Linked DNA regions of Homo sapiens. The protein of the gene in region 3 purifies or fractionates together with the protein of the main gene of each other region. This does not show direct contact. Each region holds a gene or a part of one and is shown on either strand. Other genes may lie near its edges. The genes, in order: AP3B1, HNRNPUL1, CHD8, CSNK2A2, KPNA6, AP2B1 and NPM1.

Region 1 (4,032 bases), on a different chromosome or scaffold from region 3:
TTTCCAGAACACACATCCAATCTTCTTGAATTTTTATTACGTTAAATTGGTATTCATAGTCACACATTATTCTTACTGGACTGAAAATATCATGTAATGCGTGTTGAAATGTGAGTATTACCATAAAAATCAGAGTTAGGGCTCTGGACTCTTTTAACAGATGAGGAAACAAGTTCCCATAACATATAGTTAGTGGCCTGGGCCCAAATTCTTTCTCTTATTATTTTTTAAAGAGGTAGGGTCTCTCTGTGTTGCCCAGGATAGCCTCTAACTCCTGGGCTCAAGTGATCCTCCTGCCTCAGCCTCCTGTGTAGCTGGGACTACAAGCATGTACGCCATGCCTGGCTTCTTTCTTTTATTTTTATCCCTCATTTTGAAAATATTTTTACAATTTAGTTAATATTCTTATATGAGATCTGCTCAGGGATTTTTTATTCCCTTCAAGAGGAAGGGACACTTTGATAGGCTATTGCTATTGTGAACTGGACTATTAAAATGCTTACTTTAAAAGCTTTTCCTGTTGTACTTATTATCCCACAAAATATTATTTTTATTTTACAATCTAACATGTGACCAGATTCAGTTATTTACTTGAGAAGAATTGAGCATGGATTTTGGTATAGCAAATACTGAGTTTTAAATTTTCACTCTGGTTATGAATAAATGATTTTTTTTTAACAGATCAAGAAGTTGGTATATGTTTACCTGGTTCGATATGCTGAAGAACAGCAGGATCTTGCACTCCTGTCCATAAGCACTTTTCAGCGAGCTCTGAAGGTAAATAATGGAGTGAGTAGGCAAATAGCTACAAGGTTTCTGCAGAGTTGAAAGTGTGTCAGTTAAAGAAGTGGAGCGATAATCCACTAAATAGCACAGTAGTGTCTTGAAAGAGTTAAAAGCCTCCTATAGTGCCTACTCAGTACACTTAGAAAATAATTTATACAACCAACTGAAACCTTGCTGTATATGTTACAGCTTCTGTATGTTTGTTTATATTCAATATAATTATTTTCATGCTTCAAAGAGCTGTTTATCATTATACTAGTTGTTGAAAGTACGCAAAAGGGGTTATAAGACATTTTTAAACATGAAATTGATGACCTGCAGCATTTTATTATTATGAAAGTATAAAAACCCAGCATATTTAGTAATAAATGACCAACTAGAATTATAACTATTACTTTTCTTTAAAACATTATTAAAGAAGTAAACATTTATGTCTGTCTTTTTTTCCCATTCCTATATACTAATTGTTCATTTTAAATTAAGTAGCTTTCTTTTGCTATTGTCATATTACACCCTTTAAGCACCTATTAACTGTGTCTGAAAGATATGTTTAAAATATTGTAAAGTTGAAATTTTGGTGAATATTTTTGCACTATTTTTAGGACCCAAACCAACTAATTCGTGCAAGCGCTTTGAGAGTTCTGTCAAGTATTAGAGTGCCAATTATTGTACCTATCATGATGCTTGCTATTAAGGAAGCTTCTGCTGACTTATCACCATATGTTAGGAAGAATGCAGCCCATGCAATACAAAAATTATACAGGTAGGTGCATTGTTAACAATATACCAAAGATCTCTGATGTTACATGGAATGTTATAGACCACAGAGGCTTGTTTTATTCGCTCTTTTAGGTAGGCTGCTCTTACACTAAGTAAATCCAGTGACTGTATGATGGTATTTCCCCCTGCTGCAAATGTTCCTTACACATCTTTAATTTCGTTTTGGCTATAGAGACCCTATGCAGGTTTTTATTTGTGAGGCTGTTAGAGCCTGTGATAATTTATAGATTTTATAACTTAAGAATAATCAGAATTTGAATTCTCATTTATATAGTCTATCTCATGTACACATATGCTTGTATTATTAGAAAATTGAGATTTTTTTTTCCTGTTTAGGGTAGAATCTTAAGTGTCTGATCCTCTCAACTCACTTATATGTGTTTTCCTTTCTTCCATCTTTGTTCCTGCTGCTCCCTTCGTTGTCTAATTCTTTTCCAGAGCTATTTTATTAAGTAATTTTAAAAAGTGTAGTGATTTGAAATATAGTGTGCTATACCATATCTGTGTGATATTTTAGAAATGTTATGCAATATTATACAATGCCCTGATCTCTGTGGAAAATTTACTGTCCAAATAGAATTGTCTACAACAATTTGGTATTATTTTCAGCTATCATTTATTCCTCAAGCTTTTTGAGACTCTCTTCTGTTTCTGGTGTTGTATTCACAGTATTGTGCTATGTGTATTTAGATGTATGAAAACAGTAGAGGATGTGGCACTTAATTATGAATAGCATATCATGTATTTGAGGAAGAAGATCAAAGACATACCAAATAATTAAAGGCAATCTATAATGAATAAGATATTAGCACTTGATATATATGTATATACAAAGGTACACTAGCAATGTCTTTGATAGGACAGGGACCAGAGATGATCATATTTTGTTACCGGAAAGTAAAGATGTAATGAGATGGGATTGGTAGTGAAATACTGCTTTGAGAAGGAAGACTTAAGCTGAAATTTGAAAGAATTAAAAAGTTTGTCCAGATAATTATAATGTTTAGTAATAAATGTGTATGTTTGTAGAAAGTGAAACCTCATATTCCTATGTTAACTGCCAGACAAGGTTTTATCATGCTTCTCACTCACCTTTTCTCCTTAGAAACTTATGGGATAAGATCCATGCTCACTCTAACGGCTTAAAAGTCCTTCTATCATTGGGCACCAGTATATTCCAGCCTCAATGCTTGCCTCTCCTTGCCTTGAGCTTATAGTCTGTTAGTATTCTATCTCAAATGTTTTAAGCTTATTACTACCTCTTATTTTTCCTAGTTTTAGTTGGCAGATTTTATAATGCATGTCTCTATCAGTGAACTAGTATGATATAAAATTCTTATTTGGAAATTCTCCATATTTGTTTTTGGGAAGTATGTATGCATAGTAAAATAATGACTGCTATCTAGTTATTTTTTTCCTCCCAGTTGAAAAGAGTTTGTGGTTTATCTACTTACAGTCGCTTTCTTGAAGTTTTCCAACTCTTTTAGAAGTGAACTTGTTCTTTCAGTACTATCTTAACTAAACCATTGATATCTGGTTTAGTTAATATGAACAATATTAGAGGGAAAGATGAGGACACATTCATGAGAAAAACCATCCCATTTTATTTGTTTTTCTTTATTTCTAACTTATAATTCTTGCTCTCCTTTCCCTCTTTAAAAATTTCTCAACATCCTTGAATTGGTGAGCATCATGTAAAGCTAGAATTAAAGGGAAAAATTAATATGTTATTTTTGTATTTTTTAGCCTTGATCCAGAGCAGAAGGAAATGTTAATTGAAGTAATTGAAAAACTTCTGAAAGATAAAAGCACAGTAAGTAATGTCTTTTTACGTCTTTGACATAAAAATGTACTTTATTTACATAGTATCATTTACCATTATATATTTTATATAGTTGTATTTATTGATTTCAAAATGGTATAAATATTAATGGCACACAGGACTATTTTTAAAGAACAAAAATTTTCATGTAATGAGAAAGACTGCATTTGGAGTTTTAGATCGTTATGTGTTTCTTCATCAGAATCTGAAAAAAGGCAAGTTGAGAAAAAAATCTTTAACCTGTGGCTAAGTGGTTAACATGGTAAGATCAAGGAATAGAGGTGACCTATGGGGGATGTGAGTTACTAGTGTACTAGTATCTTAGATGGGGCTTTTGTACCCACTTTATATTTCTCAAAACTACTGAGGAAAAGGATTCCAGCTCATCTTAGGATGCTATCATCAGGGAGTATGTACTATCTATGCATGGCAGCTATCTAATACAGTAGGCAGTAGCCCTGTGTAGCTGTAACTATTGGTTTATGGCTTAGCATTTGATCTATCCTGGATAATGTTCAATAAACATTTGATTAGAATGTGTATTCTGCTGTTGTTGAGTGGAGTGTTCTATAGATATCTGTTTTTTAGTGTTGTTCAAATCTTCTACTTTGCTGATCTTATGCCTACTTGTTCTATTCATTATT
Region 2 (4,032 bases), on a different chromosome or scaffold from region 3:
GCTCCATGAGCCATGATGGCAGCACTGCATTCCAGCCTGGGCAACAGTAAGCCTCTGTCTCCAAAAAAATTTTTTTTTTAATTAAATTTAAAAACCTTGTGTCTTCTTGGGCTGGTGTTGCTGAAAATATTTTTTTTAATAAAAAAATAGACAAAAAACCTTGTGTTGTATCGTTTAAACTTAGGATTTCCCAATCATGTTAAGTATATGTCTTTACAGAACAAAGTTCCCCATGATGCCAACTCTCCCTTCCCTTTTTTTTTTTTTTTTTTTTGAGATGGAGTCTCGCTCTGTTGCCCAGGCTGGAGTACAATGGTGTGATCTTGGCTCACTGCAACCTCTGCCTCCCAGGTTCAAGTGATTCTCCTGCCTCAGCCTCCTAAGTAGTTGGGACTACGGGCGTGCCACCACACCCAGCTAATTTTTTGTGTGTTTTTAGTAGATGTGGGGTTTCACCATGTTGGCCAGGATGGTCTCAATCTCCTGACCTCATGATCTGCCTGCCTCGGCCTCCCAGAGTGCTGGGATTACAGGTGTAAGCCACTGCGCCTGGCCTCTCCTCCCCATTTTATAGATTGAGGAGTTGGCTTGTCCGATGGCAGAGCTGGGGCTACAACCTAGCATACTTGCTCCCAGGCTAGTCCTCTTGGTTAATAAGCAGCATTCCTTATCATTTGTGCCTTACTATTTGGAAAGCAGGGTCCCACTATTGAGAACTGATGGAGCCCGGACTGACCCCCAGTTTTGTGCTGCTTTTACTGTGTTGTGGCCTCCCAGTGCCTTTTCTTAGTGTATCTGGTTGATTTTGTCTAACGCCATTCTGGTTCATCCACAAAGTTAAATCCCCAGACATTTCTTGTGGGTGGCTCAGAACTTTACTGAATGTAGGTTAAACCGCAGATTTGTGTCAGGCTCTGTGAGACTTGTAGGATCATTCAGCCACAGGAGAATATTTTCTGTGCCGTTATCCACAGACATTCATCAGGAGCCCTGTGTGAGCCCAACCTATTGCTGGGAACCAGGGAAGCTCTCTTCAGGATGGCTGAGCACCATCCCAGCCCTAGAGAACCAGGAGACTTTTCTGAGAGATGTGGTCCACATGCCGAAGCTGGGGAGTGATCCAAAATGGTCTGGGGTTGAATGCAGAAATGAGTAGATGTGAATGAGCTTCAGCATCAGGGATTAATGCTGTGGGAGAAATGAAGGTAGCCTACATCTGTGGTTTGCTCTTGGTTAGGCACTGATTCCTGGAGTCTGCCTGAGACTAGGACTTACCCGTGGTCCACAGCACGGTATCCCATCCTGACTTTCTGTTAATGGTATGACTTAAAGAGGTTATTGCACCTATGGGATGGCTTAACCGGAGTGATTCTGGCCTCTTTTGGTAGGGTAACTAAAGCCCGTAGAGTTAGCTGCAGGACCACAGTACCCTGTTGAATTCATCCTCTCCCCCTCCCTTGCCAGACTGAAGAAGCTTTGTAAGAACTAAGGCAGAGAGGTTCTTTGGGAAGAGAAATTGGAGAATTTAGGGTCATGGTATCTCAGATCCTAACCCTGTTCTCCAGTATGGCCTTCTTGGCTGGCTCAGCAGGCTTCTGTTGAACTCAGCAAGCTGCCTGTGCCCAGCCCTTCATCACTGTAGTGAGGATCCTGCTCACATCTCTCAAGGGAAAAGGGACCAGAAAAGTGATAGCTGGGGAGCTTGCGAGTGTCTTGACCATCTGAATTTGTCTTGACAATAGAAATGAAGACAGAGATGAAGCAAGGAGCACCCACCAGCTTCCTCCCGCCTGAAGCTTCTCAACTCAAGCCAGACAGGCAGCAATTCCAGAGTCGAAAGAGGCCTTATGAAGAAAACCGGGGACGGGGGTACTTTGAGCACCGAGAGGATAGGAGGTGGGTGTATGAGGCAGCAGTCACCCTTGCTCTGGTAGGTTTCTATATCCATAGCCTCGTGCTTGCTGGGGACATTTGCACTAACCTAGAGGGGCTGAGTAAAGATTCCCTCTGCTTTCACACTCTTCCTGTCCCTTCCCGTACTTGCTACCAGATTCAGCTTTCCTAAACTTTTGGTCCTTCCCCCAGTTCCTCCCTTCTTACCTGCAGGGTAACTTCTAAATATCTTAGACTTTCACGCGTGAGATGCCAGCCTGCCTGTTCTGTCCTTTGCCTTACTGCCCCTGCAGTCAGCTGCTTGATACCCGTAATGAAAGAAATATCTGTTTCCTAACACTACTCCCAAATACACATCCTCTTCCCATTCATCCACTCATTCAGTCAGTTCTCACAGTGCTGTCACGAAGTGCCCACTCTTGGGCTGGACACTAGCAACATACAGATGGACAGTGGGTTTTGCCTTCTGTTGTTCCAGTGTGGGGACTCAGACACATACACTAGTAAGCCACAACCTCTGAGGTGAGTAGTCAGGATGCAGGTGAGTTTCAGGAGTTCAGAAGAGGGAGCAGCCTCTGCTTTGGTCATTTCCCTTCCCTAACAAGCCCTTCCCTCCTTTCCCTCCAGACCAAGTCCTTCCCTTCCCTCCTTCCTTCCTTCAGTTCCTGTCTGAAGCCTTTTGCAATTATGAAAACTAGGAATGGCCACTGTACTCATCTGGACTAGTCATCTGACATTCTATTTCCTATCTGGCGGAGTCCACCTTCTAACTAGCTTGTTACTGTCTGAGACAGGGCCTGGATCTCACAGGCTATGATTTAAGTTAGGACATGGATCCCACCTCATATGGGGTTCTTCCACTGCCTCCCACAGAGCAGAAGCCTGGAAGCTACTTACTGATGGAGAGCAAAGGAAGAACACTCGCTCTGATCCTGGGCTGGCAGGGAAAGTTTCCTAGAATGGACTTAACATGTGATGAGCACAGCTCATCCATGTTAGCCCTGGCCTGGCGAGGCCAGAGGGGCCCTCCACCAGAGGGAAGCCTGCTGCTGGGAGAGTCAGCAGCCAAATGGGCATGGGCTCCCCATCTGTGCATGCAGTGCACTGCGACCACCCAGACTGTCCAGGCAGGACCCTGAGTGTTAGATTCTACCTTTCTACCCTTCTTCCTCGTTCCTGTACAGCAGAAACCAACAGTGTTAAGTCCCTTTTTTAGCGTTTTGGTAGGAAAATGAATATCGTTTATAATTTAGGACACTGAAAAAAATGGGTCATCTCAAATTCTTACAGATGTAGGATTTTAAGAAGCCTGGTACATGGATAGATAGTAATTATTGGGATTTATATAGGCTCTTGCACATTCCCCTTCCTGGCCAGCACCCTTTTGGGATACCACAGCCTCCAAACAGTAACAGAGATCAGTGTGGAAGTGGTTGTCAACATGCAGAGGGTATGGATCAGAATCTTTGGGTGTAAAAAAAGAGTGAAAAAATTCCCTAAATGATTCTGATGCCCCCCTTCAGCAGAGCATGCCTTCTTCAATCCCTGTCTCCACCGTAGGAGTTGACGGTCATTGCTCTCCTTGCAAGGATGTAGGGTTTCAGAGTTCTTTTGCCCACCTCTGTGGAAGGAAATGGAGATTCAGGAAGCAGTCTGGAGGCCACTCATAGATTACAGCAGAACATTCATTTTCTTTCCTTTGTGCTCATCCATTGTTCTTGTATGACTTAACCCCTGTTTCTAATACAGGGGCCGCTCTCCTCAGCCTCCTGCTGAAGAGGATGAAGATGACTTTGATGATACCCTTGTTGCTATTGACACCTGTAAGTCTTTGGAGTGTGCATCTAATTCTGCCTTACAGTCAGTATGGGGAAATTGTGGTCTTGACCTTCACCAGAATCCCTGCTGGGCACCGTCCAAAGACATTGTTAGTCCACATGTGAGACACGGCTTAGCTCTGGAGCAAGAGTACTGGTTTGGAGGCAAAAGACCTACTCCCAACTCTAGCAGTGGGACCCTGGGCAAGTCATTCTACTTCTCTGAGCTTCCCTTCAGGAAGGAGTAAATCTGCTGTACTAACCTCAGAGGATTTTCAGGGAGACTCCTCAGTGGATATAGGAGCAATCTGGAAAACCCTGA
Region 3 (4,032 bases):
CTGTTTTTTAGTTGGGGACGATGGCGAGATATTTTATCTCATGGACGCTTCAAGCGACGTATGACTGAACGAGATGTGGAGACCATTTGTCGGGCCATTCTCGTGTACTGTCTTCTACACTACCGTGGGGATGAAAATATTAAAGGCTTCATCTGGGACTTGATTAGCCCAGCTGAAAATGGCAAGACAAAAGAATTGCAGAATCATTCAGGTAATTATCAACTCTTTACTTTATGTTTTTCTATAGGTTAATCTAATCCTTTTCAGGTCCAAGGGTTTTTCTCAATCCAAGTCTTTGATGTCTCCCCTTTCCCAGGTCTATCTATCCCTGTGCCTCGTGGACGCAAAGGAAAAAAAGTAAAGTCACAAAGCACTTTTGATATCCATAAGGCAGATTGGATCCGGAAATATAACCCTGACACTTTGTTCCAAGATGAAAGTTATAAGAAGCACTTGAAACATCAGTGTAACAAGTAAGCATAGAATTAGCAGACATTTTCCACCTCAAACTTCTACAGTGTTACTGAGCCAGCTCTTCCTCTGTCCTTTCTAGGGTACTGTTGCGGGTACGAATGCTATACTACCTGAGGCAGGAGGTTATTGGAGACCAAGCAGAAAAGGTGTTAGGGGGTGCGATTGCCAGGTAAAATTCTGCTATATTTTTTTGATTTATGCCCTACCTTATTTGAGGGAAGATTGGTTTGCTTATTTCATTTTATGCTATCTTTGGGATACCTGATAATTTAAATCTATATATCAGGTCTTTAATCTTATACTTGACACTAGTGGGAGGAAATAGGGTAGATGCATGAGTATTTAAATTAATGGATACAGGAAGATACCTATAATAACCTTTGCAAGGATTCTCACTTTAATTTCCTGCATTTCTGTGCTGACTCTGCCCTCTTATACCTTTAGTGAGATTGACATATGGTTCCCAGTAGTGGATCAACTGGAGGTTCCAACAACTTGGTGGGACAGTGAGGCTGACAAGTCGCTGCTCATTGGAGTCTTTAAACATGGTACGTATCTTCTCCTATTCTACTCCTTTCCGACTGAAGATTTATGTTCACGGATGGAACATTTAGCAAAATGCTCCTGAGAAATAACTCAGTTATCTGATTGATCTTCAATAAATTTGAGTAGGAAAGTAGTTCTTAAATATCCAGAGCAGAGCAGTTAGTTCCTATAAATAGATGTTCAAGAAGGGCCAGATGGATAGGTAAATCTCAAGGTAGGGAGCCTCCCATCTGTTCTCTAATCACTGTTAGCAGTGTGTTACCGCACTGTATGCTATGGTAAGTTAGGGTCCCATGAATCAGGGCAGGTAATATACCCCAACTATTGTTAATAATAATCACACTTAATTTATATGACTTTCCTCTGGATGTGCACTAGCATAACAATTGCAGCAGATCATCTTGTCGCAGTTGTATTTCTGGGTGAGTAGGCAGAGGGAAGGCTCAATAATGTCACCTCAGAGGCAAAGCACCACCTGCAGGGTGGACTCTTTCTGGATGTTACAGTCTGAAAGAGTACGGCCATCCTCCAACTGTTTGTTCACAAATATCAGATGCTGCTGGTCAGGTGGGATGCCCTCCTTGTCGTGGATCTTGGCTTTGACATTTTCACTGGTGTCACTCGGCTGGACCTCAAGGGTGATGGTTTTGCCTGTGAGGGTCTTTACAGAGATCTGCATCTCTATGTCAGCTTGGCTGCCTCACTAAAGAGAAAGAGCTGAAAATCTTCTGTTTTTCTACATGTCCCATTTGTCTAAATGTTCAGCAGTCTCTCTGATATAGGTATGAGGCAGCAGTTTTTGAGTGAAATAAAAGTAGAGTATAAGAAGGGAGACTGACTAGCCAAAACAAAAATGCAGTGGGGGTAAGAATATTTCCTTACTCTTATAGCAGTTTTGCCTAATGCCAAATCCCAGGCACTAAAAACAGTAAGCGTTAACTTTCAGCCAAGTGACTTTGTGAATTAGAATGTCTTTTTTTTAAAAGAATACTTTTTTTTCTATAAAATAAAAGTAATGGCACTTAATCTACATCTTTTTTGAGACGTTTAATGGGATAAATAAAATTGCAGGTGCTGGGCATGGTGGCTTATGCCTGTAATCCCAGCACTTTGGGTGGCCAAGGTGTGCAGATCAGGAGATTGAGACTATCCTGGCTAACACGGTGAAACGCCGGCTCTACTAAAAAATATAAAAAATTAGCTGGGCGTGGTGGTGGGCACCTGTAGTCCCAGCTACTCAGGAGGCTGAGGCAGGAGAATGGCGTGAACCTGGAAGGCAGAGCTTGCAGTGAGCCAAGATCGCACCACTGCACTCCAGCCTGGGCGACAGAGTGAGACTCCATCTCAAAAAATAAATAAATAAATAAAAATAAATAAAACTGCAGGCAAGGCATGGTGGCTTACACCTGGAATCCCAACACTTTGGGAGCCTAAGGCTATCAGTCACTAGTTAAAAACTCTTCATGATTCTAAATTGCTATAAAAATGTTAAATATAGTAATAAACCCAGTAGTTGTCCAAGATAACATTCTAACTTTGTTTTCCATTATGAGCAATATAGAACATATTCTAATTATTCCAGCAGCATATAAAGTAAGCATAAAGGCAAAACAAATCTCATTTTCTTCAACTATGACCCTTTTTCTTCTAGGCTATGAGAAATATAATACCATGAGGGCAGACCCAGCCTTATGTTTCCTAGAAAAGGCTGGCCGACCAGATGACAAAGCAATTGCAGCAGAACATCGAGTGTTGGATAACTTCTCTGACATAGTAGAAGGGTAAGCATTAGTATTTGTTCTTTTAAAACTCTAACTTGTGCCGTGAAATAACTCTAGCCTTGACTGAACCCAATGGGATTCTTAATTGTAATTATACTCAAAAGTGATAGATCCTTAGCAAAAATAGGACCAGCAGAAAGGACTCCATAAACTGCATAAACCACATGTTGCCATAAGATACATCTGAGGGTGAAAATGAATGTCACTTGTAAATGGCTTATTTGATGTTCTATTTGGTTTGGTTTACAACACTCTTCTGTACAGCTACAGTAGCTGAGAGGATAACTGGTCTCTTGAAAGATAACAGCCAGCAGCTCTCATACGTTGCTTCTGTGGAAGAGCCTTAGGCGCTTTCAGCCCTGGTTTATCATCTCCCAATGGTACCTGACACATAAAGGTACTTATTTTGCCTGAAAACATGTCCCAATGATGAGTTGCCATGCTAATACTGAGCCACCAGGTAGGGCAGTGTTGCCCTGGTTTGGGTGCCAGTGAGTTTAACAAAACTTCTCACATGAAGATCTGAGGGGCATGTGAAACAGTTGGCTTAATGAATACCTCCCCATTCCATCATGACTGAGAAATTTCTCTTTGACGATCACACCCTCAGTTTGCCTAGTGTAGGACCCTCAAAGGAAATTGGGTTATTTATTCATTGCAAATCGTTTATGCCACCTGTCTGCTCAGAAGAACACAGTAATAAAAACAAAAAAGCGTGAACCATACAAATGAAATAATAAAAAGTAAATAGTTGGGTAGGAGGAAGAATTACATAATAAAAGTCAAGAAAAAGGAACTGTGTTGATCAAAGTGTTTCAAATTCAAGCAATTACGAATGGTACATTGTCAATTTCTTATAATTATTTGTATTCCATTGGATGCTATACCAGACTGACCCAAAGTTTTGCACCTGGCCTGCCATTCCTGTAAACACGAAATTAAATACTAGGCCAGGCACTGTGGCTCATGCCTGTAATCCCAGCCCTTTGGGAGGCCACAGTGGGTGGATCACAAGGTCATCAGTTCGAGACCAGCATGGCAAATAAGGTGAAACCCCGTCTGTACTAAAAATACAAAAAAAATTAGCCAGGAGTGGTGGCGCATGCCTGTAATCCCAGCTACTTGGGAGGCTGAGGCAGGAGAAACACTTGAACCCAGGAGGCGGAGGTTGCAGTGAGCCGAGATGGCACTGCTGCACTCCAGGTGATGGAACAAGACTCCATCTCAAAAA
Region 4 (4,032 bases), on a different chromosome or scaffold from region 3:
ATCTCGTCTAAAAAAGAAATTTATATCAGAAAAATGGATTTCTAATACCCTTGGCTAATGCGTTGTCCTTATTGCCTCAGATGTATGATTATAGCTTGGACATGTGGAGTTTGGGCTGTATGTTAGCAAGCATGATCTTTCGAAGGGAACCATTCTTCCATGGACAGGACAACTATGACCAGGTGAGCAAATGCTTTCTGGTTCTTATTTATTTGGGGGTGAATGCCAAAAAAATAGCATCCTTAGATAAGAATACTATCCTTGAGCCACTAAGTATCACTCAGTGTCTGCATATGAGCTTTTCTTCAAGATAAAGATCGCACAGAATTTTGTGTTTACCAGGTCCGCAGAAGTAGAGGCAGATAATGCCATCTATGCCAAACTTCCAAAGTGAATCTGTGAAGAAGTCAGGCACCTCCTTGTCTAATAAAACTAGATTTTAGTCATTAGATTGTGATGCCCTGTACTGGTCCACCTCTAGAAGATTATTATCGTAAGTTGTATTATTTTAAAGGCCGTTTGGAAATTTGCATTCATGTGAACTTCTTGTCCTTGGGTCTGTCTGCCTGCCCTGGACCTGGGTTTGTATCTCGTTCCTAGAGGTTTAGTGGTGTGGAAGTCTTCTGATTCCTTGGTGCAGTGTCCTCACGGGCTCATGGTGTGTTCTGTGCTCAGTGATTTGGTCAGTTTGTTTTGTGTTTCAGCTTGTTCGCATTGCCAAGGTTCTGGGTACAGAAGAACTGTATGGGTATCTGAAGAAGTATCACATAGACCTAGATCCACACTTCAACGATATCCTGGGACAGTAAGTAAGAGAGAGAGAGAGAGTGCTTTACCTTACCCCGTTTCAGAAGTGGAAAGGTTAGCCAAAATCACTTTCTTTTCCCATTCTGATTATAGTAAAATGGAAGTAGCCCTCTTTTTTCCTATGCATATTTTCTTTTAACTTATTGAGATATTTGGACTTTATGTCTTTTAATCATTTTACTTCTCTGAGAGATAACCTATTAATAGAAAAGGTAAAACAAAAATCATAATGTTATAGAAAAAAGTTTTCTGGTACAGCAAAAGCTTATTTTTAATGGCCAAACTTGGAGAGCAATGATTCTTTGAATAAGAGACTTAGTTTGTTTTTTATTATATTTTATTTTATTTACTTCATATCTCTTCAAGGTGGACTTACAATTTCTTCTTGTTCTCTGTAATGGATTTTCTATACAATAGCAAATTTTAAAGCACATTGAGTTTTCAGGTACATTGCAATAATGTTGAGAAGTAAACATTTTGTTAACAGTTTTCAAACAGTATTTTATGGAACCTCCCTGTTTCTGAGGCTAGCCCTGGGAAATATATCTGCTGACCAATAAAAATTGCCCACTCTTCTGCATGCCACCCAGAATTGACTAAAAGTCTACAGCATAAAAAATAATCTAGAAAGGTTCCACATATTCTAAATGAGATATAGAAGTTTTACCTAGTTGTATTTTTCTAATCACAGAGCACCATTGTGTTTCAGGATGCTATGCTGTAACTATGGGGCCGTAGGGCAGGCACCAGTTAGAGATTTAACAAGCTTGTAATCAGTACATTATTCTGAGATTTTGTTGGCTTTAGCCCTAGTAGATAAGGATTCTTGTTGAATTTAGTCTCTGGTTACTAATGCTTCATTTTTCTTCTCAGACATTCACGGAAACGCTGGGAAAACTTTATCCATAGTGAGAACAGACACCTTGTCAGCCCTGAGGCCCTAGATCTTCTGGACAAACTTCTGCGATACGACCATCAACAGAGACTGACTGCCAAAGAGGCCATGGAGCACCCATACTTCTGTGAGTCTCCAGGGACTGTGTTCAGGGAGTAATTCAGTCAAGAGAACAAATCTTCCACTCTTTGTCTTTGAGACCAGTCAGGAGAATTCTAGGGTATTTGGATTGGATTATTCCTAGAATTTGGCCTCATTTATCGTAGATGATTGAGACAACTTTGCAGATCCGTTTCTTGATCACCAAAGGTGTTTGCTTATTCACTGAATGTATCTCCCCGGAGTTCAAGCTGTTTGACTACTCCCTGTTACCCTGAGTTAATAGATCGCAAGTTTCTAAAATTTCTTTTTAAACATACATATATTTGTGTGGAAACCTAATTGAAGATTATTTCTCCCCTCAGAAAACTAGTAATTAGTTAAAAGTAGTAAGATAACTATTGTATGTTTTGAAAGAAGGAGATGAACAGATGGATGGACGAAAGGAATTTGAGGAAAGGGAAGTAAGTGTGGAGAGGCCTCACTGAAATCTTGACTGAACTGCTCACTTAGAAGTGTGTGTGGATTCACTTTGCGTGTTTGCTTATTCTTCTGCATGTGTATGGTTCTTTCCTCTGATAACGTGTGTTTCAAATAAACTTCCTCCTATTATCAGTCTCCTTCCTGGGGAGCAGGGAGGTTGAGAGACTTACCTCAGTCGCTTTCTGAATCAAGAGGGAAACGTTCACCCCTTAAAGTCGTTGTCTCTGGCTTAACAAACATGCTGTCTTTCCCTCTCCTTTGATTTCCTCTGGAGATGAACTAAATTCTTGCCTGAAGAATGTGTCGCTGTAGTCTTGAGCCTGTGGCCCATATGCATAAGGGAGACCGCAAATGGAAAAGCCTTCAGCCTTCTAGACCTCAGCCCCAGGAAACTCAGATGTCCCCGCCCCAGTGTCTGGCACAGAAAGCTGTTTTTACCCGAGTTAGATCAAATTAGGAATACTGATGTTTATGACATGTCATTAATGATCTTTCTGCTTTTCTGAATATATGTCATACTTCAATTTAAAAAATTTCAAACTACGGTTGCTTAAAATGGATAGGTCTTCTGATGGCTCTTTTTACTCACCTTTCCTTTGAAGTGCTTGTTATTCTACATGCTTTGAAGAAATTAGGGGTTAGAGATGATATTAATATTGAAAGAAAATAAATGTAGAAATTTGAACAGTGGGAAATTAGAGTTTCTATGCCTCTTAGCATTGAGTCTGTACTCCGAGGAAGGGTAAGAGTTGACTGCAATAACAATTTCCCTGATCATTTTTCAGTGTTTGGTTTTTATATGGCTGGAATTCCGTGATTTCCGTCTCTCCTGTTGCCCCCCTGACCCTGGCTTGCCCATCAGTCTGTCTCTCTTTCCGTTGAAAGGGTGGGTTTGCCATGGGCTTCTCTCAGCACTCACCACCCTGATTGCCTGACTTTCCTCCTGCTTTCTTGCAGACCCTGTGGTGAAGGAGCAGTCCCAGCCTTGTGCAGACAATGCTGTGCTTTCCAGTGGTCTCACGGCAGCACGATGAAGACTGGAAAGCGACGGGTAATGCGGCATTGATGCTTGCCAATAAAACCAACCAACCAAACACAAACCTTGAAGGAAAACTACAGTGTGATAAAAAGAAATTCTTATCATTCCTTCTAAATGCACAGAAGAGTAAAGACCTAAAAGTCTGTCAAAAAGCAAGAAAGAAACTCCCCAGTGCTAGTCTCCAGGGAGCTGTCACTGTGGCAGCATGGGGATGCACCTAGTTCAGGATCTGAAGGAGCTCTGCCTTTGGAATGCATGGGAGATAGAGACTCGGAGTTGTTGTACATTTACCTTTGTTTAACAGGGCACCACTGTTGAATTAACCCATTCAGTCAACAAGCTCTGAATGTCTGACTTCCTATCTATTCCATTGTGGTCTGGGTTTCCTTTGGTGAAATTCAGGCTCAAGTCTTAGCGAAATGTCAGCAGTCTATACTGACACACCAGCCTCATTTACAAAAAGGAGATATTAAAACAGTGACAGTATTTTTTTTTTAAGCTCTTTACAAATCCACGTTTTATGTATTTTTTAATGACATGAGCTCTCCAGGAAATGTACCTCATCCCCGCAGTTTTCCTCCAAGTGGATTCATTTGGGAGCAAACTGCAGTCACTTTCACAAGAGTCCTCTTTGATGTCAGGAGGGATCACGAAACCTTGCAATGCCATGAACTGGTCCATGGTTATCATCAAAAGTTCCATGCTAAGT
Region 5 (4,032 bases), on a different chromosome or scaffold from region 3:
CTGTCTGAGCAAGAGCAGTTTATAGGTCACCTGTAAACCATGAGCAAACAGGGAGAGCATCCATTATCATTCAAGACAACGGGAAAGGAATGTAATACCTGATCTGCTCAGGGGTTCCTCCTGATGTGGCATTGGTGATGGCCCAGGCTGCCTCTTTCCTTGTACGAAACTCTGCTTTCTGAAGGATTTCGATCAACACAGGGAAGATATTTGCATCTATAACAGCCTGAGAGAGAATTGAGAGGAGGCAGATGGAAGGAGAAAGTCATTTCAGCATGATAAATAAATCTAGTCCCCAAATCAGCTGAGACTTAGACATCTTCCCCATTCTGGGAGTTTTCTTTTGTTCTTCCTATATAGGTGACAGGCTACTACAGAAGAACCCAGTTTTGGTTACACAGCTTCTTTGACCAATAGTACACACTGACTCCAATTTATTTATTTATTTATTTATTTTCTGAGACAGTCTTGCTCTGTCACCCAGGCTGGAGTGCAGTGGCGCGATCTCGGCTCACTGCAAGCTCCACCTACCAGGTTCACGCCATTCTCCTGCCTCAGCCTCCCGACTAGCTGTGACTACAGGCGCCTGCCACCACGCCCGGCTAATTTTTCTTTTTTTTTGTATTTTTAGAAGAGACATGGTTTCACCACGTTAGCCAGGATGGTCTTGATCTCCTGACCTTGTGATCCGCCCACCTCAGCCTCCCAAAGTGCTGGGATTACAAGCATGAGCCACCATGCCCAGCCCCTCTTTTTTTTTTTTTTTTTTTGAGACGGAGTCTCGCTCTGTTGCCCAGGCTGGAGTGCAGTGGCGTGATCTCAGCTCACTGCAACCTTTGCCTCTCGGGTTCAAGCAATTCTCCTGCCTCAGCCTCCCGAATAGCTGAGATTACAGGCGTCCGCCACCACACCCATCTAATTTTTGTATTTTTAGTACAGATGGGGTTTCACCATGTTGGCCAGGATGGTCTCAAACTCCTGACCTCATGATCTGCCCACCTCGGCCTCCCAAAGTGCTGGGACTACAGGCGTGAGCCACCGTGCCTGGCCAATTGACTCCTATTTTTAAAGGGAAACAAATTCTTTCTTCTGAAAGCAAATATTCCAACAACCTCCCAAGTTCCTATGACTTCCCATGCCCCTTGACTTCCCTGCCTGTTTTACCTGTATTTGAGCCCTGTTGCCAGCAGTAATATTTGAAATAGTCCAGCAAGCTTCCTTCCGGATTGACTCCTTGGGACTGCTCAACAAGTGGAGAAGGCAAGGTAGGGCTGAACAGTTAAGAATGACCTAGAACACCAAAAGCACAGGAAACAAAAGAAAAATTAAACTGTTTTTAATTTTTTTTATGTTTTTTTGTTGTTGTTGTTGTTGTTGTTGTTTTTGTTTTTTTTTTTGAGACAGAGTCTCGCTCTGACGCCCAGGCTGGAGTGCAATGGCACAATCTCGGCTCACTGCAACCTCCGCCTCCCAGGTTCAAGTGATTCTCCAGCCTCAGCCTCCCAAGACGCTTGGATTACAGACGCCTACCACCACGCCCGGAAAATTTTTCTATTTTTAGTAGAGATGGGGTTTCATCATGTTGGCCAGGCTGGTCTCATGCTCCTGACCTCAGGTGATCTGCCTGCCTCGGCCTCCCAAAGTGTTGGGATTACAGGTGTGAGCCACTGTGCCCGGCTTCATTTTTTTTCTTTAAATAGGGTCTCACTTTGTTGCCTAGGCTGGAGTGCAGTGGCATGATCATGGCTTACTGCAGCCTTGACCTCCCAGTCTCAAGCAATCCTTCTACTTCAGCCTCCTGAGTAGCTGGGGACTCCTGAGTAGCAGGGTGCCACCGCACTCTGCTAATTAAAAAACATTTTTTTTTTTTGTAGAGACAGGGTCTTCCCATGTTGCAGGGCTGGTCTCAAACTTCTGGGCTCAAGTGATCCTCCTGCCTCAGCCTCCCAAAGTGCTGGAATTACAGGCATGAGCCACTGCACCTGGCCCAGGTAAACTGGACTTAATCAAAATGAAAAACTGTTGTGCATCAAGACATTGGAGTAAGCTGGGCACAGTGGTATGCACCTGCAGTCCCAGCTACTCAGGAGGCTGAGGCAGTAGGATCACCTCAGCACAGGAGTTCAAGGCCAGCTGGGGCAACATAGTGAGACCCTCTAAAAAAAATTAAAAAAGAAAAGAAAGTTGGTCTGGGTGAGGTGGCTTCATGCCTGTAATCCCAGCACTTTGAGAAGCCAAGGTGGGAGGATTGCTTAAGCCCAGTAGTTCAAGAGTAGCCTGGGCAACATGGTAAAACCCTGTCTCTCCAAAAAAAAACAAATTCAAAAAATTAGCTAGGCATGATGGTGCATGCCTGTAGTCCCAGCTACTTGGGAGGCTGAGGTGGAAGGACTGCTTTGAGCTCAGGAGGCAGAGGTTGCAGTGAGCCGAGATGGCATCATTGCACTCTAGCCTGGGTGACAAAGACAGACTCTGTCTCAATTTTAAAAAATTAAATAAGTTAAAAGTTTTTTTTTTAAAGACACCAAAGTTAAAAGATAAAACCACAGAACAAGAGAAAATATTTGCAAAACATGTGTCTGATAAGAGATTAATATCCAGAACATATGAAGAACTCCTAAAATTGAACAACCAGAAAACTCAACAACCCAATTAAAACATGAGCAAAAGACTTGAATAGACATGTGTCCAAAAAAAAAAAAAAAATACACAGATGGCCAATAAGCATATGAAAAGATGCTCAACATTACCAATCATTAGAAAAATGCAAATCAAAACCACAATGAAATATCACTTCACACCCATTAGGGTGGGTATTATCAAAAAAAAAACAAAAAACAAAAAACGGAAAATAACAACTGTTGGCAAGGCTGTGGGGAAACTGGAACATGCTGCATTGTTGGTGGGAATGTAAGATGGCATAGCAGCTGTGCAGAACAGTATGGTGTCCCCTCAAAAAAATTAGGCATAAAATTAGAACATGATCCAGCAATTCCACTCTGGGTATATACCGGGGACTTGAACAAATATTTGTACACCAATGTTCATAGCAGCATTATTCACAATAGCCAAAAGGTGGAAACAACCCAAATGTCTATTGATGGATAAATAAAATATGGTATATACATACAGTGGAATATCATTCAGCCTTTCAAAGGAGTTCTGATGCATGCTACAACATGAACGAATTTTAAAGATACTAGGCTAAGTGAAATAAACCAGACGAGAAAGAATAAACACTGTATGATTCCACTTACATGAGGTACTTAGAGCACTCAAACTCACAGATACAGAAAATAGAATGGTGGTTACTAGGCACTAGGGGAAGGGAGAATGGGGAGTTACTGTTTAATGTGTACGGTTTCAGTTTGAGATGATAAAAAATTTCTGTAGCTGGCTAGTGGCAATAACGGAAAAACAATGTGAATGTACTTTATGCCAATGGTTAAAATGGTAAATTTTATGTTGTATTTTAAAGTACATGCATATACATATACAAAGTAACCCAGAAAATGAGCATGTGGGTTTGAGTGTTTGAGTGACACTACTCACCTGTTAAGAAACCTGTCCAGAATCCCACAGAATTATGCTCGCTACTCAAAACCCAAAGAATACCCAAATCTCTAGCCTTTGAGCAGGGGAACTTTGTTTACTATGCCTTCACCAGAAGGGTTATTTACAAAAGATTATTCCAAGGTCCATGATATCCATGAGACCTTAAAGATCTAGGAAGCAGGGGTGGAGTTCCATAGCTTTCAGTATCTCAAAGGGACCATGACTCAAACTTAACTAACTCACAATGTCCCAGGTGGTAAGTCCAGTTATTCCACTTAGTTTTCCTTCACCCATTAGACGATGATTTGTTCCCAATTTATGTAAGAAAAGAAGGAACCAAGTTTCCCATGACTGTTTAGAGAATAACAGAGCTGGAACTTTTCACTCAAGCCCACACTTACTTCCTTAGACCATAGTGCCTCCCATCAGGACCACAGCCCTTTGCAGGAAAGGCTTTTGTCCACTGGCAGCTCTCCA
Region 6 (4,032 bases), on a different chromosome or scaffold from region 3:
CGCACCTACTAAATACCCACAAAACTAAAAATTAAAAAAATTCCATGCATAAGTCATGGTTGCCTCTCTAGATGTTTGTTGTGAAAGAATATTGTCCTACTAATTTTGAATTTTTTTTTTCTGAAAGAGATTCTTTTTATTGAAAGTTTCATGTCATAGATCGGCAAAATTGTTTTTTCTTTTGACCTTACACTGCTTCAGAATATATGTTTTGGAGTGATTCCAGCTTGAGGCAAGGAAGTTACCAGATTTTCCTGAATGGAAAGTAATTGCAGATATATTTATAAAAAGGTCCAGCTTTAGCTCTTGAAAGCTTTGAGGAGTTACTGTGGATAAAATCACAAAGCCATAATAGGTTCATACTTTTACCCAGTTGCATTTGGCCTTTAGATTTTTGCCCCATTAGCTTGAGGAGTTACATTCTTAGTTTTTCTTGAACCATCAACGGTGGTGATAAAGGAAGATGATACTCATTTTTAGAAATTCTTAAATATAAGTGTTCCTAAAATTAATTGGATGTTCTTAAAATTAATTGGATGCCTTGTTGGATATCTATAACCTGAATGAAGGAATTCTTTTCTCTTGCTATAGGTGCACATTAAAGATCCAAAGTCATGACTGACTCCAAGTATTTCACAACCAATAAAAAAGGTAAGTATGAGAATACAATCAAATCTTTTGAAATTTTCAAAAGTTGTAGTGTAAGATTGCCCCAGGCAGAATGCTGCTGACCTCTTCCTTCAGACATACATGTAGCTGACAATCTCACTGGACATCTACTACTTCTATAGATGAATGTATTCAAGCAAGTTATTAAAGAGTAGGTTTTAAAAGAGAGGGCTGTGATGCACATTATTATGACTTGAAGGTTCTGTTTAGTGAAAGAGACTCCTCTTTGCTGTTTGAGATGATCCATTGGAGATTGGTTAAGTGTGAGGAGGACAAAAGAAGCAGCATACTTTTTCCCTTTTATTAAATAATTTTTACTTGGAAATAAACATTTTATAACAAAGAATACAATTAAAGCAATACAGATATGTATGTAAAAGGTAAAAATGAAAGTTCTCCCTTCCTGTTCCTATTCCCAAGGGAACTTGGTGTATATCCTCAAGTCTTTTTCTCTGCATATGAGTGCATATATTAATACATATGATTTAAAATTTTTTTATCTTTAATGAAAAAGCAATCTTGCAAAACAATGAATAGAAATGAGTTATTTTCATATCCGTCCATATACATCTACCATGTTCTTCGTCTAGATGTATATTTAAAACGGAATCTCTAGAGCCATCTATGGTTTTTAGGTCATAGACGGAATTACTTGAGGGACTTTGCACTTATTACTCTCATCATCTTTGTTATCAGTAATATAATGCTTGTTTTTACCTATGAGTTTGGGTCTAGGAACAAAGGATTCTTCTGGGGAAAGTCCAACCCTTCATCTTTTGTAAAATTGTTCCTAAATAAAATAGATCATTTCTAGAAATGTGGAGGGTCTTCCCATCAAAGACAAACATTTTAGCCCATCTCAGCTTATTGTGCCTGTAGCTTAGCTTGCTTTATTTGTTGCTTAGGATCAGAATTCTGTGCTTTTGTGTTCAGGAGTCCTTACATTTACCAAAGTATTCCAGACATGGCGCCAACTACCATTCTTCTTTTTCTCTTGTTGCAGTGAGTTGCTTAATTATGTCAGTTTGTTGTCTGTAGCTTTCAGTCTTGGCAACACATCAGAATTGCTCAGCCAGGGAACTTTGAAATAATACTGATGCCTGGGTCTCAACCTCAGCCTGATTTCAGTTGTCCTGGATATGGTCTGGGTGTGAGGATTTTAAAGGTTCTCCAGGTGGCCAGGCATGGTGGCTTATGCCTGTAATCCCAGCACATTGGGAGGCTGAGACAGGAGGATTGTTTGAGTGCAGGAGTTTGAGACCAGCCTGGGCAACATGGTAAGACCCTATCTCTATGAAAAAAAATTTAAAAATTAGCCCTGTACGGTGGTGCACACCTGTAGTCCCAGCTATTTGGGAGGCTGAGGTGGGAGGATCACTTGAGTGCAGGAGGTTGAGGCTGCAGTGAGTCGTGATTGTGCCGCTGTACCCCAGCCTAGGCAACAGAGAGAGACCCTGTCTCAAAAGAAAAAAATTAAAAAGAAAGCTCCCCAGATTATTTTAATGTGCAGCCATGATTGAGAACTACTGCTAGCTGCTAACAGTGCTTGGTAGATTTGATTGGGGGGAGGAGGAGGGAGAAAATATAGGAATTTAATAAAGTTGTAGAATATATGACTTTGCCTCTTTTAGTACCCCTCTTTGGTCCTGCCCAACTTTTTCCTCCTTATTTTTATTACTTACACCTCACAAAAGCCATTAGCCACTTGTCATTCAGTCTCAGCTTTTTCTGATTTTCTTTTGGAAATATGTTTATTTCTTCTTCTGTTAGCATTTTGTGTGCTTTGACGAACAAAATGTCTATAATTATATAAAGGGATACAATTACAATTAAATAGTTATAATTTTAAAACTCTCCTAATTCTTCAAACCTACTCTTGAAAAGTGTCCTGGTGACCTTTTTTTAATTCAGGCATTTGTAAAAGTTTGAGACTGCAGATTGAATCACTGCTAATAAACATCATACTTAAAAAAAATTGATAGATTGTGTTCCCTGTACTTCCTGCAACACCCACCAGAACTGCCACTGAAACATATTCTTTAAATTTATGCTTTTGGAATTGGAATAATTTCTGTTACATCCTGCTTTGATTCTATAACACCTGCTGCTGTTCACAATTCAGACTTTCTGAAACCCCGCCGTTTGTCCTTCACTGTTCCCGGAAGTGAATGAGAGGAACTCTAAGAGCTGGATTTGGCAGGATGGGACATGGTGAAGAGTCCTATGAAGAATGACTCTTTAAAGGGCCCAGCTTTTCTTGCTATGCTACTTTTGTAGCTGTTGATTAAATAGAAATTTTGGAACAATTTTTTTGCCTTATTGGCCATGGATATTGAAACGAAAAAGTGCTCTACTTCTGTGTCTTACTAATTTCATCCTTTCCACATAATGGTTTCAGGCAAATCACGTAGTGTTTGTCCCCACTATTTCTTTCTTTTTTTTTTTTTTGGAGGAGGGGAGGTCAGGTTTTAATGTCCCAGTCCTCGGGCGCCGTCATCCCGCGCCTGCCAGGCCCGGCGGCCATGTCGCTCACTCGGGTGGCGGCCAGCCTGCCTCATCAGGGCCTTCCGCGGAGGCCGCCCCGTCGCCCTCGAGCACCAGCTTCACGTCCAGCTCCAGCTGCCCGGTGTAGAAGCCCACGGCGGCGCACACCCAGAGCGGGCTGGTGGCGAGTACAGCGCCCGCAGCTGCGCCCCCTAGCGTCAGCTGCATGGGCCCCCGCAGCGCTGCCAGGCCCCGCAGGCGCTGCCCCACACCGCACACAGGCCGCCCAGCAGGAAGAAGCCATATGCTGCTTCGTGATCCATGTCACTCTGCATGAAGGAGATAACCCCGATGCCCTATGCCAGGAGGCCATTGTGGAACCAGGAGAAGAAAGCTGTCTCGTGCGCCTTTCGGAGAGGAGCCTGGCGCCTGCACGGTCCAGCTCGGACACAGGTGGCGGCGAAGCCCCGTTGTGGGGGCCGTGGCCGGGGGCGAAGGACCCCTGGGCGCCCCCGCTCCGGGGCCACTGAGGCAGCAGTAGCGACCTCCGGAAGCGGAGACTGTCCCCACTGTTTCTATGCTGGTAAATGAGATCTGGTTGAAAGGAACGACAGGAACAGTCTTGAAGGTGGAGGAAAGTCTTTTGAGGCAGTATGGTAGATGAGCTGGAGGATGTAGATGGAAAGTTGAGATGGGAGTAGTCAACCTCTTTTTCATGGACTTAGTGTTTTTTTTCCGTTTCTTTTAAACAATATTAGGGTTGTTACTTTCTTTTTTATTTTGGTTCCGGCTTCTTGCAGATAGGTGAGCCTGGAGACCAGGCCTTAAAATAGTGGTTACAGTCCCTGACAGTTTACAGTGCGGAGCCTAAGCAGTCAT
Region 7 (4,032 bases), on a different chromosome or scaffold from region 3:
GTGGTCCCATAAGATTATTATACCTTATTTTTAATATACCTTTCCTGTTTTTTTTTTTCTTTGGAGGCAGTCTCGCTCTGTCACCCAGGCTGGAGTGCAGTGGTGTAATCTCGGCTCACTGCAACCTCTGATTTCCGAGTTCAAGTAATTCCCTGCCTCACCCTCCCGAGTAGCTGGGATTACAGGCATGTGCCACCACACCTGGCTAATTTTTGTGTTTTTAGTAGAGACGAGGTTGTTACCATGTTGTCCAGGCTGGTCTCAAACTCCTGACCTCATGATCTGCCCGCCTCAGCCTCCCTAAGTGTTGGGATTACAGGCATGAGCCACCAAGCCCGGCCCTTTCCTATGCTTAGATGCACAAATACTGTGTTTCGGTTGCTTACAGTATTCAGTACAGTAACACTGTACAGGTTTGTAGCCTAGGTGTGTGTAGTAGGCTATACCATCTAGGTTTGTATAAGCACATTCTTATGATTGTACAAAGATGAAATTGTCTAACAACACATTTCTCAGAACCTAGCCCTGTGGTTAAGTGACGCATGGCTGCATATAACATTTAGTGGGGGGGTGTAAAATAGGTGGAACTCAAAAGTTGAAGTAGTATTTTTTTTTTGTTCACAGGTCAGTTTAGGGGCTGGTGCAAAGGATGAGTTGCACATTGTTGAAGCAGAGGCAATGAATTACGAAGGCAGTCCAATTAAAGTAACACTGGCAACTTTGAAAATGTCTGTACAGCCAACGGTAAGGGCACTTACATACTTTGGATGTTGTGTCAAGGTTTAATTCTGTTTTAAGGTAGGTTTGGTGTCATTTAGTTGTGCCAAGGAGATAGAAAGTGGTTCTTTATCTTCTGTCACTGGAGTTCGATGGTCAACTCTTGAACATGGGGGCTTCTGCTGCTACTTTTATCAGAGGTGGAAAAACAGGTTCACTGGTTTGTTGATTTGGCTTATGTGTTTGCCTGTAATGTTTATTGTTCATTTTCTTCACATGTTTAGTGATGAAAAATTTCTCCCTTCTAGGTTTCCCTTGGGGGCTTTGAAATAACACCACCAGTGGTCTTAAGGTTGAAGTGTGGTTCAGGGCCAGTGCATATTAGTGGACAGCACTTAGTAGGTATGTTATTTTTATATATTATACTACTTAGTTTGTCCTCTTTAGTGCAGTTGCTTGGTTCCCAGTTTGGACTTAAAGCATGGGTATAGTACTACTGTCTTTTTAATAGGTTCCAATGTGAGTCTAGAAATTGGAGAGGACAAATAAATTTTTGGGGCGGGGGGGAGAGGAAATCTTGCTGTCACCCAGGCTAGAGTACAGTGGCACGATCTTGGCTCACTGGAACCTCTCCGGGATTCAAGCGATCCTCCTGTCTCAGCCTCCCCAGTAGCTGGGGCCACAGACGTGCACCACCAAGTCCAGTTGCGTTTCATAGTTATAGTAGAGAAGGGGTTTCGTGATGTTGGCCAGGCCGATCTTGAACTCCTGGCCTTAACGTGATCTGCACGCCCTGGCCTCTCAAAGTGCTAGTATTACACGTGTCAGCCACTGTGCCTGGCCTAAAAATTATTTTTTAATAAAGACAGTCTCATTATAACGGCTGGAGTGCAGTGATGTGATCATAGCTTGCTATATCCTCGAACTGCTACTGGGTTCACCTCAGCCTCTGGAATAGCTAGAACTACAGGCACACTCCACGCCTGGCTAATTTTTTTTGTATATGTGCAGATGGGGTCTCAGTATGTTGCCCAGATTGGACTCTTGGCCTCAAGTGGTCCGCCTTGGCCTCCCCAAAGTGAGATTACAGGCATGAGCCACCCTCCCCAGGCTTCTTGCATTTAAAACCTGGCAGTGAACATTAGGCCTCAAAATACTTTTGTTAAAAAGTTCCTTTTCCCATGTGCTCTTTTTTTTTTTTTTTTTAAATAGAATAGAAGTCTCAGTTTTTAGAGTATTTACTATCAGTGTTCTTTTTTTTTCTGACTTCTTGCTGCTTGAGTTTTATAATGTCTAATAAATTGTATTTTAGCTGTGGAGGAAGATGCAGAGTCAGAAGATGAAGAGGAGGAGGATGTGAAACTCTTAAGTATATCTGGAAAGCGGTCTGCCCCTGGAGGTGGTAGCAAGGTTCCACAGGTAGAGATGGCAATTTTATTATAGGTTTTGTATTATAGCTTTTAGTTTGGTGATAGAACAGCTCTTGTTCATGAGTACGTATCTTTTCTTTTAAAAGAAAAAAGTAAAACTTGCTGCTGATGAAGATGATGACGATGATGATGAAGAGGATGATGATGAAGAGTAAGTATGATTTTAGAAACTTGATATACTTCCGGAATCTTGACAAAAAAAGGAATTTGACATAGTTATATGCATGAGGGTTTTATAAAAGTCATTTACAAAAAGCCATCCTATGTAATAGTTTATAATAAAAGGGCAGGTGGTCATCTGTTGTCAGTTTAAGTTAAATGAGCTGAGTTGAAAGGATATTGGGTCTGTGAGCCTTTACAATGCTGTGACTTGTGACTCTTCAGAAGGGTAGACTATAGTGTTTGTGAAGTTTGATTATGTCCCTTTGTTCTGAAGATTTAGTGGATGTGTTATACCCATCAAGCCTGGTATGTTTTATGGTGAGCAGTTAATGAGATTGGGTTGAAAGAAAATATGATTAAATAGCTCTATATTCATTTTACAAGTTGTTACTCAAGGTTTGTTATTCCCTAAAAGGATTTTGTCTTATGGTTTTATGTAGATATTTATTGACAAAAATAAGATTCTAAAAGGGATATTAAGATTTTCTTGGGATTTAAAATATGGTTGGAAACAATATTTGATGACTTTATATTAAACTAGATCAAACTATTGTTACAAACAGTTAATACGCACACTGGTATAAAGTACTGTTTATAATTGGTCTTATGTGTGCCAGTACCAGTAATGCATTGAATACTTTGATTTGGCTCTCAGCTTTGTCCTTCAGTTCTGAGGTTGGTCCATATGCATTTATTGAAAACAAATATAAGAACATGCACTTTAAAAGAGAACCTGCATGAAAGATCAAATTGGGAGTTTAGGTTTTAAGCTGGTGGTTCTTCAAAATCTTTGAGCATGACGATGAAGGCAGAAAACAGGAAAAAGGCCGAAAGAGCCGAAAGCTTAAAAATTCAAAGTATGACCAGGCGCAGTGGTTCACACCCGTAATCCTAACACCCAGCCAAGATGAGAGGATCTCTTGAGGCCAGCCCGGTCAAAATAGCAAGACCCAATCTCAAAAGAAAAATAAAAATTCAAAGTACTTGCATGTCAAACTTATAAATGAACGCAAACTTAAAGGTAGTATTTGACTGTTGCTGTTTTTGTTTTCTTTTTTTTTTTTTTTTTTTTTGAGATGGAGTCTCCAGTTGCTCAGGCTGGAGTGCGGTGGCGCCATCTCGGCTCACCACAACCTCTGCCTCCTGGGTTCAAGCGATTGTCCTGCCTCAGCCTCCCGGGTAGCTGGGACTGCAGGCTCGGGGCACCATGCCCTGCTAATTTTTGTATTTAGTAGAGACAGGGTTTCAGTATGTTGGTCCGGCTGGTCTTGAACTCCTAACCTCGTGATCTACCTGCCTCGGTCTCCCAAAGTGCTGGGATTGCAGATGTGAACCACTGCGCCCAGCCAAATTTTTGTATTTTTAATAGACATGGGGTTTCACCACGTTGGCTAGGCTATTCTCAAACTCCTAACCTCGGGCGATCTGGTCACCTCATCCTCCCAAAGTGCTGGGATTACAGGCATGAGCCACCGTGCCCGGCCACTTTTTTTCTTGAGATGGTGTTTTACCATGCTACTCAGACTGGACTTGAATCTCTGGGCACAAGCTATCCTCCCCTCTCAGACTATGAAGCAGGTGGGGTTACAGGAGCATAACCAAGCCCAGCTTGTTTGGTTATCACTTTTAAGAATATTTCTCGTTAGTAAGAATTGAAATACATTCCAAGAGAAGAATGGGAAACAGGCTAAAAACACAAATTAGAAATAGGGATGGTATGGTT

Evidence for each region.
Region 1: the proteins of CHD8 (region 3) and AP3B1 purify together in Homo sapiens (affinity purification with mass spectrometry; 2 studies listed by BioGRID and IntAct, with this or other methods). This does not show direct contact.
Region 2: the proteins of CHD8 (region 3) and HNRNPUL1 purify together in Homo sapiens (affinity purification with mass spectrometry; 2 studies listed by BioGRID and IntAct, with this or other methods). This does not show direct contact.
Region 4: the proteins of CHD8 (region 3) and CSNK2A2 purify together in Homo sapiens (affinity purification with mass spectrometry, with the first as the bait; 2 studies listed by BioGRID). This does not show direct contact.
Region 5: the proteins of CHD8 (region 3) and KPNA6 purify together in Homo sapiens (affinity purification with mass spectrometry; 4 studies listed by BioGRID and IntAct, with this or other methods). This does not show direct contact.
Region 6: the proteins of CHD8 (region 3) and AP2B1 purify together in Homo sapiens (affinity purification with mass spectrometry, with the first as the bait; 2 studies listed by BioGRID). This does not show direct contact.
Region 7: the proteins of CHD8 (region 3) and NPM1 purify together in Homo sapiens (affinity purification with mass spectrometry; 2 studies listed by BioGRID and IntAct, with this or other methods). This does not show direct contact.

Annotation. Positions count from the first base shown.
Region 1 is NC_000005.10:78,224,889-78,228,920, reverse strand, and holds part of AP3B1 (AP-3 complex subunit beta-1), read left to right. Parts: intron 1-681; coding exon 682-777; intron 778-1,388; coding exon 1,389-1,549; intron 1,550-3,312; coding exon 3,313-3,379; intron 3,380-4,032. UniProt on the Homo sapiens protein: Subunit of non-clathrin- and clathrin-associated adaptor protein complex 3 (AP-3) that plays a role in protein sorting in the late-Golgi/trans-Golgi network (TGN) and/or endosomes.
Region 2 is NC_000019.10:41,270,340-41,274,371, forward strand, and holds part of HNRNPUL1 (heterogeneous nuclear ribonucleoprotein U-like protein 1), read left to right. Parts: intron 1-1,742; coding exon 1,743-1,896; intron 1,897-3,642; coding exon 3,643-3,716; intron 3,717-4,032.
Region 3 is NC_000014.9:21,396,592-21,400,623, reverse strand, and holds part of CHD8 (chromodomain-helicase-DNA-binding protein 8), read left to right. Parts: intron 1-11; coding exon 12-211; intron 212-316; coding exon 317-473; intron 474-553; coding exon 554-643; intron 644-918; coding exon 919-1,022; intron 1,023-2,671; coding exon 2,672-2,801; intron 2,802-3,222; exon of another isoform or gene 3,223-3,331; intron 3,332-4,032. UniProt on the Homo sapiens protein: ATP-dependent chromatin-remodeling factor, it slides nucleosomes along DNA; nucleosome sliding requires ATP. Acts as a transcription repressor by remodeling chromatin structure and recruiting histone H1 to target genes.
Region 4 is NC_000016.10:58,163,357-58,167,388, reverse strand, and holds part of CSNK2A2 (casein kinase II subunit alpha'), read left to right. Parts: intron 1-80; coding exon 81-182; intron 183-704; coding exon 705-805; intron 806-1,680; coding exon 1,681-1,829; intron 1,830-3,241; coding exon 3,242-3,318; 3' UTR 3,319-3,335; exon of another isoform or gene 3,336-4,032.
Region 5 is NC_000001.11:32,163,363-32,167,394, reverse strand, and holds part of KPNA6 (importin subunit alpha-7), read right to left. Parts: intron 1,291-4,032; coding exon 1,165-1,290; intron 227-1,164; coding exon 99-226; intron 1-98. UniProt on the Homo sapiens protein: Functions in nuclear protein import as an adapter protein for nuclear receptor KPNB1. Binds specifically and directly to substrates containing either a simple or bipartite NLS motif.
Region 6 is NC_000017.11:35,593,417-35,597,448, forward strand, and holds part of AP2B1 (AP-2 complex subunit beta), read left to right. Parts: intron 1-591; 5' UTR 592-614; coding exon 615-651; intron 652-3,116; exon of another isoform or gene 3,117-3,714; intron 3,715-4,032. UniProt on the Homo sapiens protein: Component of the adaptor protein complex 2 (AP-2). Adaptor protein complexes function in protein transport via transport vesicles in different membrane traffic pathways.
Region 7 is NC_000005.10:171,390,681-171,394,712, forward strand, and holds part of NPM1 (nucleophosmin), read left to right. Parts: intron 1-624; coding exon 625-744; intron 745-1,025; coding exon 1,026-1,119; intron 1,120-2,029; coding exon 2,030-2,136; intron 2,137-2,233; coding exon 2,234-2,298; intron 2,299-4,032. UniProt on the Homo sapiens protein: Involved in diverse cellular processes such as ribosome biogenesis, centrosome duplication, protein chaperoning, histone assembly, cell proliferation, and regulation of tumor suppressors p53/TP53 and ARF.